Regions from separate parts of the Homo sapiens genome. Here region 2 is linked to region 1. Evidence: fine-mapped expression QTL. A gene starts in region 1. The other region holds a variant in brackets. All regions are shown on one strand. Distances are from middle to middle.

Region 1 (5,264 bases):
AGCCCAAGAATATCACCCACTTATCCAACCAAAAGGCTTGGTCCTTAGCCCCCATTCTGCCCTTCCTGGCCAAATAACCTGTACCACCATGCCTAAAGATTAACCCTTGTAGGCCGGATGCGGTGGCTTACGCCTGTAATCCCAGAACTCTGGGTGGCTGAGGCGGGTGGATCACCTGAGGTTGGGAGTTCAAGACTAGCCTGACCAACATGGAGAAACCCTGTCTCTACTAAATAAATACAAAATTAGCCGGGCGTGGTGGCGCATGCCTGTAATCCCAGCTACTCGGGAGGCTGAGGCAGGAGAATTGCTTGAAGCCGGGAGGCGGAGGTTGTGGTGAGCCAAGCTCGCGCCATTGCACTCTGGCCTGGGCAACAAGAGAGACACTCCATCTCAAAAAAAAAAAAAAAAAATAGAACAACCCTTCTAAATGTAATCCACAGCTCACTCACCTTAGTCCACACAATGACCACCACATTTTGGATGTCTCCATTCTGAAGCACTCCCCAGATTTCCAGACCTGGGTGTTCAGCCACCTACTTAATGCCTACTTAATGTCTCTGAAACATCTCAAACTCTTACATGACCAAATAAAGCTCCTGTTGTCTCCAGTGAATATTACTGTTAATACCAACTTCTCCATCTCAGTTGAAGAACCATGGGGTCATCGCTGAATCCTGTTTCACTCCCTCGCTGTCTACATCAGAAAATTTAGTTGCTCCCTTTAAAAATTTGCATCCAGAATGCAACACATCTCCTAATCAATGACTCTGGTCCATTACCCTGGACTGGCTGTAGCTTCCACTCTGATCTTCTTTCCTCTTCCCTCAACCCCACAGTCTGCTCTCCACGCTAACGGGATGGACCCTGTTAGGACTTTGGTAAGATCACCTCCCTCTTGTAACCCAAATCTCTCATTACCTCCAGAATAGGTACCCAACTTCTCAGGCAGCCACTGCAGTCCTGACTCCTTCCCCCTGCTCTTTGTTCCCAGCTAAAAGGAAACAGATCTATGGTTTCCTCAAAAATCTCAGCTTAGTTTTACTAAGCACTTGCGCCTCCTGATACCAGTGCCAGAGATAACCTTTCACAAGTTTCCACTGGCTGACAAAAATGGGAACACCTCAGTATAACCCCTGTAACCTCTGGCATGGACTTAAGAGCCCTGGGCTTGGAATTTCTCCAGGGCACCAGACCCAGGATTGGGGTAACAGCACTTAAGAATACTAGGAAACCACAATCCCAAGAACATGGGGGTAGAGGCTACTGAGGGACCGAACACTCTCCACTTCCCTATGTGAGTTCCATACGCCCTTCTACAACTGGGAGAACCAGGGAAAGAGGAATGCATCCCTGGTGAGGCTAGATGAGCTCAAGCCTCCCTGTAGCCCTGCCTGGCCCTGAACTCAGGCTGGCTGTTTTACTTTCTGGTCTCAGTGCTGTCACCTCTTGCCAACTGTAGGGCAATGAAAAAAAGATGTAGCCTCCCACTATCTCAATGTCCTCATCGCCCCATCGCTGCTCTTCCTGTGAACAGTCTTTGGAAAAGTTTTTAAACCCTAACATAGGGCGGGCACGGTGGCTCACGCCTGTAATCCCAGCACTTTGGGAGGCCGAGGCAGGAGGATCACTTGTCAGGAGTTCCAGACCAGTCTGGCCAAAATGGTGAAATCCCGTCTCTACTAAAAATACAAAAAATTAGCCGGACGTTGTAATCCCAGCTGCAGGCTTGTAATCCCAGCTGCTGGGGAGGCTGAGGCAGGAGAATCGCTTGAACCCGGGAGTCGGAGGTTGCAGTGACCCGAGATCGCGTCATTGCACTCCAGCCTGGGCGATAAGAGCGAAACTCCGTCTCAAAGAAAAAAAAACTAACATAAATGGCGTCCCTCCTTTGTTCAGAACTCTCCGTGGCTTCTAGCATCCTCACAATGACAGTACAACCCTAGGAGTAACTCCGCCTCATATTCTTCGTTCCCTGCAGAAAACAGCTTTCCGAATTCTCCTGGCTCAGTCGCGCCTCAACCTTTGCACGCGCCGGTTCCTCCGCCTGTCACGCTCTCCCACACCTCGTCACACGCAGTGTCAAAAAAAGGGCCCCACCCACGAACGCCTCAGTGTCCCCGACCCTGGGCAGCGGGGACTCGAGCAGGCGCCCCTCACTGATGGCTTTAGAACGTGGGTGGGGGAAGGTGTGTGAGGACGGGAAGACGCCGCACTCACCTGAGTTGGCGTCCTCAGAGTGGCCGCTGCCATCAGACTCTGCGGGTAGAGCTGGGCCGGGAGCGACGGGCGACATTGGTAGGGACCCGGGGACAGCGGTCCCTATCCCAGGCCTGACGTGGGTCCCCCAGGGCGGCGTCGCCAAGGCTTAGACGCTTTCGTGCAGGAGGGACGACGACTCCCCTCACGCCTTCGTGGCCCCAACTCGGCGCTCTGCTATCTCTGATCCGGTGAACACACCTCAGAGAAGCTAAAATGGCCGCCACGAAGAGGCCCCCCCAAAAGTCCCGTCCTTTCTTTTTGTGACTCTCAAGGAAAGTCGGTTTTCTGAGCTCTTACTGGCTTAGTAGCGTGGCGTTCAACGCAGAGCATTCTAGGTAATGTAGTTTTCATAGATCCCGAGGTGGGTGCCGGGGACCCTTTGCACCAACCTCTTGGAGTAAAAGCGAAGCTCCAGGGCGCTGGGCGATGAGAAATGGCTTATCCAAGTCCTAGGGCAGTGGAGGGACTTCGCCCTTTCTTAAATGGGTCGTAATCAGACAGCATATTAGAGGTGCCATCTGCAACTGATCACCCAAGTGTTTGGGGAATATTATTTCAAACTTCATAAAGTTCAGCAGGCTCCCAGAGGCTAAAATTATTATCAGACGCTCCCTAAGGCTGCCAATCCAAATATGTACATCATTCCATAGAGCCATTCAGACACGAAATATATCCACTAGTAGGGAAGCTAATAAACATTACCATATAAGTTTATTCCTTTTTTTTTTTTTTTAAGACAAAGTTTCCCTCTGTCCCCCAGGCTGGAGTGCAGCGGCGCCATCTGGGATCACTGCAACCTCCGCCTCCCGGGTTAATCGATTCTCGTGCCTCAACCTTCCAAGTAGCTGGGACTATAGGCGCGCGCCACCACGCCAGGCTAATTTTTTGTATTTTCAGTAGAGACAGGGTTTCACTATGGTGGTCCCAAATTCCTGGCCCCAGGTGATCTGCCCGCCTCGGCCTCTCAAAGTGCTGGGATTACAGGCGTAAGCCACCGTACCCAGCCTCTATCATATTACATTTCAAATGTATGCACTCCGAAGCATTGAAGTCAGTCTGTGCACTTTTGGTCAGGGACAGGTGAAAAACTACTTCAGATAGTGGCATGATAGTGCTTCTAGAAGATAGAAGAGAAATGTTAGATCACCTTGAAACAGTAGTACAAAGGTAGAATTCTGTCTGATTCCAACAGAAAACATCTTTTGCCTGCATAGTCAATTATTGTGTCCAATTACTGTGTCCAGTCAATAACTGTGTCCAATTCACTGAGCAACGCTTTTATCCATTTCATAATTCTTACTTGATATCTGAGATATATTCCTTCTAGAAGTCTAACATCAATCTCAAAAAACAATGAAAGAAATGCTACTTTGATAAGAGACAAAGGGGAGAGGTGGGACTTCTTAATCAGAAAGCCGGTGAAATGCACTTGAAGGAAGTGAGAAATGAGCCATGTGGGTATTTTTAGAATAAATTCCAGGCAGAAGAAGCAGGTTACTAGAGTGCCTGGATGGATGGAGACTTCACAGGGCATTTCAGCATTGGAGGGCCTAGGGCTCCAACCCAGCAGGCCTTCATCTGCTTTGCTGGCTGCAGAGACACTCAGGGTATATAGGTGAGAAATCTCTTCTTTTTTTTTTTTCTTTTTTTTTGAGATGGAGTTTCACTCTTATTGCCCAGGCTGGAGTGCAATGACGCAGTCTTGTTTCACTGCAACCTCTCCACCTCCTGGGTTCAAGCGATTATCTTGCCTCAGCCTCCCAAGTAGCTGGGACTACAGGCGCACGCCATGACACCCAGCTAATTTTTGTATTTTTAGAAGAGACGGGGTTTCACCATGTTGGCCAGGCTGGTCTCGAACCACTGACCTCAGGTGATCCACGCATCTCGGCTTCCCAAAGTGCTGGGATTACAGGCATGAGCCACCGAGCCTGGCCGAGAAATCTCTGCTGCTTTGTTATAAAGTTTTGGAGCCGCAAAATAAATAGCACTCGAATATAAAATTTTCTTTTTAATTCTCAGCAAGGTAATGTACTTTTTTTTTTTTTTTTTTTTTTGAGATGGAATCTTGCTCTGTCACCCAGGTTGGAGTGCAGTGGCGCGATCTCGGCTCACTGCAAGCTCCGCCTCCCAGGTTCACGCCATTCTCCTGCCTCAGCCTCCCGAGTAGCTGGGACTACAGTTGCCCACCACCATGCCTAGCTAATTTTTTGTATTTTTAGTAGAGACAGGGTTTCACCATCTTGGCCAGGCTAGTCTTGAACTCCTGACCTCATGATCCACCCACCTCGGCCTCTCGAGGTGCTGGAATTACAGGCGTGAGCCACTGCGTCCGGCCCCAACATTTATTTTAATGTTCAGATTCTCCCAGATGTTTGGACAGTGGGAACTCATTAAAGCTGTGCTCTCTGCTTTTTTATGTCAATATTATTGATAATTTCATTACTTTCTAATCCAAAAATATTTTCAGGCTCATGTTGTACCCTTGCTATCCCAGCCCCAGAATCAGCCTCTTTTTCAAGGAGCTCTGGTTTTCTTCAATAGATAACAATGCTTGTAAATATTAGTAAGCATTAGCTGTGCTCTTTTCTACTGGTAAATCATTGATTATTAGGTCCTCTTGGAGAGAAAGCAGATACATACACATGCACGCACACATTTTTTTTTTTTTTTTTGAGACAGAGTCTTGCTCTGTCGCCCAGGCTGGAGTGCAGTGGCACGATCTCGGCTCACTGCAAGCTCAGCCTCCGAGGTTCACGCCATTCTCCTGCCTCAGGCTCCTGAGTAGCTGGGACTACGGGCGCCTGCCACCACGCCCGGCTAATTTTTTGTATATTTTTAGTAGAGACAGAGTTTCACCGTGTTAGCCAGGATGGTCTCGATCTCCTGACCTCGTGATCCGCCCGCCTCGGCTTCCCAAAGTGCTGGGATTACAGGCGTGAGCCACCGTGCCCGGCCACTTGCACACATTTCTATACAAATTTATTTCTACATCTATATTT
Region 2 (5,499 bases), 28 kb after region 1:
CATCAGTTTAAAATAATGGGTTATAAGATATAGTTTACCATGGAAGCTTCATGGTAAACTAAATTCAAAAACCTACAACAGATACCAAAAAATTTTTTAAAAAGAAATTAAAATATACAACCAGAGAAAATCACCTTCACAATAAGGAAGACAGGAAGGAAGGAAAGAAGGAAGAGAAGACCACCAAACAACATGGCAGCAGTAAATCCTTACTTATTAATAAAACATTGAATATAAATGGACTAAAGTCTCCAATCAAAACACACAGAGTTGCTGAATGAATAAAAATAAAGACCCAATGCTCTATTGCATACAAGAAACACCCTTCACCTATAAAGACACACATAGATTAAAATAAAAGGATGGAAAAAGATATTTCATGCCACTGGAAACGACGAAATAGCAGGAATAACTACATGTATATCAGAAAAATAGATTTCAAGAGAAAAACTGTGAAAAGAGACAAAGTCATTATATATAATGCTAAAGGGATCAATTCAGCAAGAGGACATAATCTTTGTAAATATATATACACTCAACACTGGAGCACCCAGATATAAAAGTAAATATTATTAGAGCTAAAGAGACAGATAGAGTCTGACACAGTGATAGCTGAAGATGACAACACCCCACTTTCAGCATTGAACAGGCCTTCCAGACAGAAATGGACTTAATCTGCACTATAGAACAAATGGACCTAATAGATATTTATAGAACATTTCATCCAACAGCTTCAGAATACCTATTCTTCTCAGCACATGGATCATTCTCAAAGAAATACTATATGTTAGGCCATAAAATATGTCTTGAAACTTTTTTAAATTGAAATAATATCAAGTACCTTCTCTGACCACAAGGCAATAAAAGTAGAAATCAGTAACAAGTGGACTTTCAAAATGCTACAAACACATGGAAATTAAACAGTCGTCTTCTGAATGACCAGTGGGTCAATTAAGAAATTGAGAAGTTGGGCTGGGCATGATGGCTCACGACTGTAATCCCAGCACTTTGGGAGGTGGAGCCAGGCGGATCACGAGGTCAGGAGTTCAAGACCAGCCTGACCGACATGATGAAACCCTGTCTCTACTAAAAATACAAAAATTAGCCGGGCATGGTGGCACACACCTGTAATCCCAGCTACTCAGGAGGCTGAGGCAGGAGAATTGCTTAAACCCAGGAGGTGGAGGTTGCAGTGAGTGGAGATTGCGCCATTGCACTCCAGCTTGGGAGACAGAGTGAGACTCCATCTCAAAGAGAAAAAAAAAAAAGAAAGAAATTGAAAAGTTTTTTGAGGCCAGGCGCATTGGCTCATGCCTGTAATCCCAGCACTTTGGGAGGCCAAGGCAGGTGGATCACCTGAGGTCAGGAGTTCGAGACCAGCCTGATCAACAAGGTGAAACCATGTCTCTACTAAAAATACAAAAATTAGTCGGGCATGGTGGCGGGCGCCTGTAGTCCTAGCTACTCATGAGGCTGAGGAATTGCTTGAACCCAAGAAGGTGGAGGTGGCAGTGAGCCGAGACTGCGCCGCTGCACTCCAGCCTGGATGATGGAGCAAGACTCTGTCTCAAAAAAAAAAAAAAGAAAAGAAAAGTTTTTTGAAACAAATGATAATAGAAACACAGCATGCCAAAATCTGTGGGATACAGAAAAATAAGTACTAAGAAGAATGTTTATAGCTATAAGTGCCTACATTACAAAAGTAAAAAAAAAAACTTTAAATAAACAACCTAATAATGCATCTTAAAGAATTAGAGATGCTAGAGCAAACCAAACCCAAAGTGAGTAGAAGAAAATAAATAGCTGGGCGCAGTAGCTCACGCCTGCAGTCCCAACACTTTGGGAGGCTGAGGCAGGTGGATCACCGGAGGTCAGGAGTTCGAGACCAGCCTGACCAATAAGGTGAAATTCCATCTCTACTAAAAATATAAAAATTAGCCAGACGTAGTGGCAGGCACCTGTAGTCCCAGCTACTCAGGAGGCTGAGACAGGAGAATTGCTTGAACCCGGGAGGTGGAGGTTGCAGTGAGCCAAGATCACGCCACTGCACTCTAGCCTGGGCAACAGAACAAGACTCTGTCTCAAAAAAAAAAAAAAAAAAAGGAAAATAAAATAATAAAGATTAGAGCAGAAATAAATGAAACTGAAACAAAGAAAACAATACAAATGTGTTCAACAAAATGATTTTTTTTGTTTGTTTGTTTTTTGTTTGTTTTTTTTGAAATGGGGTCTTGCTCTTATCACCCAGGCTGGAGTGCAATGGCAGGATCTCTGTTCACTGCAACCTCTGCCTCCTGGGTTCAAGCAATTCTCCTGCCTCAGCCTCCCAAGTAGCTGGGATTACAGGCACCCACCACCATGCCCGGCTAATTTTTGTATTTTTAATACAGACGGGGCTTTGCCATGTTGGTCAGGCTGGTCTCGAACTCCTGACCTCGTGATCTGTCCACCTCGGCCTCCCAAAGTGCTGGGATTACAGGCGTGAGCCACCACGCCCGGCCGAGAAATTGGTTTTTTGAAAAGTAAACAAAATAAAAAATCCTTTAGCCAGACTAAGAAAGATAAACCAAATAAAATAGAAGTGAGAAAGAAGACTTTACAGCCAATACTGCAGAAATTCAAAGGATCATTAGAGGCTACTATGATCAACTGTATGCCAAAAATTGGAAATTATAGAAAAAATGGACAAATTCCTAGACACATATAACTTACCAAGATGAATTATGAGGAAATCCAAAACCTGAACTGACAAATAGCAAGCAATGAGATTGAGGCTGTAATAAAAATTTTCCCAGCAAAGAAAAGCCTGG[G/A]ACCCAATGGCTTCACTACTGAATTTTACCAAACATTTAAAGAACTAACCCCAATCCTACTCGAACTATTCCCAAAAATAAGAGGAGGAGAAAATACTTCTAAATTCATCATACAAGGTTGGTATTACCCTGATACTAAAATAATTTTTTTTCTATTTCCATTTCAATAAGAAATAAGAAAAAGTAAAACAAAGACATATTTGAACCTAATATATTCTTCAGTGATATCATTCCTTTACTGTAAGGAATACTTTTTTTTTCTTTTTTCTTTTTTTTTGAGATGGAGTCTTGCTCTGTCACCAGGCTGGAGTGCAGTGGTGCGATCTCGGCTCACTGCACCCTCCTCCGCCCAGGTTCAAGTGATTTCCCCTGCCTCAGCCTCCCAAGTAGCTGGGACTACAGGAGTGCGCCACCACGCCTGGCTAATTTTTTTGTATTTTAGTGGATACTGGGTTTCACCATGTTGACTAGGATGGTCTCGATGGCCTGACCCCGTGATCCGCCCGCCTCGGGCTCCCAAAGTGCTGGTATTACAGGCGTGAGCCACCACGCCTGGCCGGAGTACTTGTTTTTCAATACCACAGGAGCTATGAGCTGGTCCTCCATTTTGTATCAAAGAATGTGTCCCCAGGTGACAAGATGCAGATTCCAAGACATTGAATCAATATGATGCCACCATCGCTTTCTTTCTGTTCTATGACATCTTTCTAGTCTTACCTTACTATTTCCTTGGCTCTCAGTTGGTTTTTCCTGAGTTCTCAGAAATTGAAATAATACACACTTTGTAGAAATAAGAATTTCATGTTAGTCAAGTCTCTAGGATAGCCATGGGCTCCACTTAATTATCTCAGAACTTACAGCCCCATGTCCTCTGCTCACTATCCATTGAGATTTATGTGTTCTCAGACTTCACAGAAACTTTTCTAGCTACTTATGTCATTCTCAGTGGTAACTTCATTTATCCACAATATTAACTAATTTTCTCAGTCCAAGCTGTTTTCCAGAGGTAATCTCCAGTCCCCATGCCGAAACTATCATTGTACTTACTGCTGAAATGATAGTTCCTTCCCAGCAAGAAGGTGAGATTATTGTACCCAGAATCTTTTCTCAGGGTTCAAATATCCACTTTCCCCATGGCAGGAATGCTGACACTCCAGCCACGGTTTTGTAAATGTGAATTAGTAAATACCAACTATTCCCAGGTGAGTGTTGTGGGCAGCAAGCTACCCAGGTGCTGAGGCAAGAGACCGAGGGCATGAGCCATTCCAGTATAATAAAATATATAAAACAACAAGAGTTATACTAGATCTAGATCATAGATGTAATTATATATGAATATCATTAATCATTAGTTTGTAGCAATTACTCTTTATTCCAGTATTATAATAATACTCGCTCTATAATCATAACCTAGAAAAAACCAGGCCATACAGAGATAGGAGCTGAGGGGACACAGTGAGAAGTGACCAGAAGACAAGAGTGCGAGCCTTCTGTTATGTCCAGACAGGGCCACCAGAGGGCTCCTTGGTCTAGCGGTGATGCCAGCATCTGGGAAGTCTGGTCTAGCGGTAGCCTTAGTGTCAAGGAAAAACAACCGCTACTTAGCGGACCGGGAAAGGGAGTCTCCCTTTTCCCCGGGGGGAGTTTAGAGAAGACTCTGCTCCTCCGTCTCTTGTGGAGGGCCTGACATCAGTCAGGCCCACCCGCAGTTATCCGGAGGCCTAACCATCTCCCTGTGATGCTGTGCTTCAGTGGTCACGCTCCTAGTCCACCTTCATGTTCCATCCTGTACACCTGGCTCTGCCTTCTAGATAACAGTAGCAAAATTAGTGAAAGTACTAAAAGTCTCTGATATGCAGAAATAATGGTGTAAGCTGTCTCTCTCTCTCCCTCTCTCTCTCTGCCTTGGCTGCCAGGCAGAGAAGGGCCCCGCGTCCAGTGGACACATGACCCACATGACCTTACCTATCATTGGAGATGACTCACACTCTTTGCCCTGCCTCTTTTGCTTTGTATCCAATAAATAACAGTGCAGCTAGACATTCAGGGCCACTACCAGTCTCCGCGCATTGGTGGTAGTGGTCCCCCGGGCCCAGCTGCCTTTTCTCTTATCTCTTTGTCTTGTGTCTTTATTTCTACACTCTCTCGTCACCGCACACAGGGAGAGACCCACCGACCCTGTGGGGCTGGTCCCTACAGAGTGTTACAATCAGAAGGAACCAGTTCTGCTCTGAGGTTGAGACATACTCTGAGGGACCTGGAGACATGGTGCAACCTCCTCTCCTTGCCTTATGCCTCTCCTCTATATTTCCTCTGAAACCTTCTTTGAATATTCTTCCTTCCATTACTGACTGAAAATATTAAGCCTCACAAAGTCCACTGTAAGATCTTTACCAGTGGGAAATGAAGAAGACTGTTTAAAGTATTTGAGTGGCCATTTAGTGTCTTTATAACATTTTTTGGTTATGCATTTTTGTCTTTTTGGGGGCATGATTTGCAAATTGAGTCTCTGGTATTTTACTAACTTGTGTTTGATGAGTGAAAGAGTTAATACTTCCTCTCCCATTAGTGAAAGGAAAGACACTTCAGAAACATGAATAAAAGATTGTAAATTGGAAATAGTAAGGTAATCAGATATGTAAAGAATCTAGGCCAGGCGTGGTGGCTCACGCCTGTAATCCCAGCATGT

The links. PIP is the estimated chance that this variant, and not a neighbour inherited with it, causes the effect.
Region 2: its variant is the best candidate, but not a certain one, in a credible set for the expression of ZNF154 in whole blood (TOPMed, PIP 0.82).

Annotation. Positions count from the first base shown.
Region 1 is chr19:57,706,719-57,711,982 of GRCh38, forward strand. ZNF154 (zinc finger protein 154) reads right to left here and starts at 2,486. Exons shown (of 3, transcript NM_001085384.3): 1 at 2,221-2,486. The coding sequence starts at 2,253. RefSeq lists enhancers at 2,074-2,713, 2,457-2,586, 2,607-2,666.
Region 2 is chr19:57,734,197-57,739,695 of GRCh38, forward strand. No RefSeq gene overlaps it. Among named protein-coding and RNA genes, the nearest start is that of ZNF671, 9.3 kb to the left of the region's middle. The variant G/A (reference allele first, on the strand shown) is at 2,811.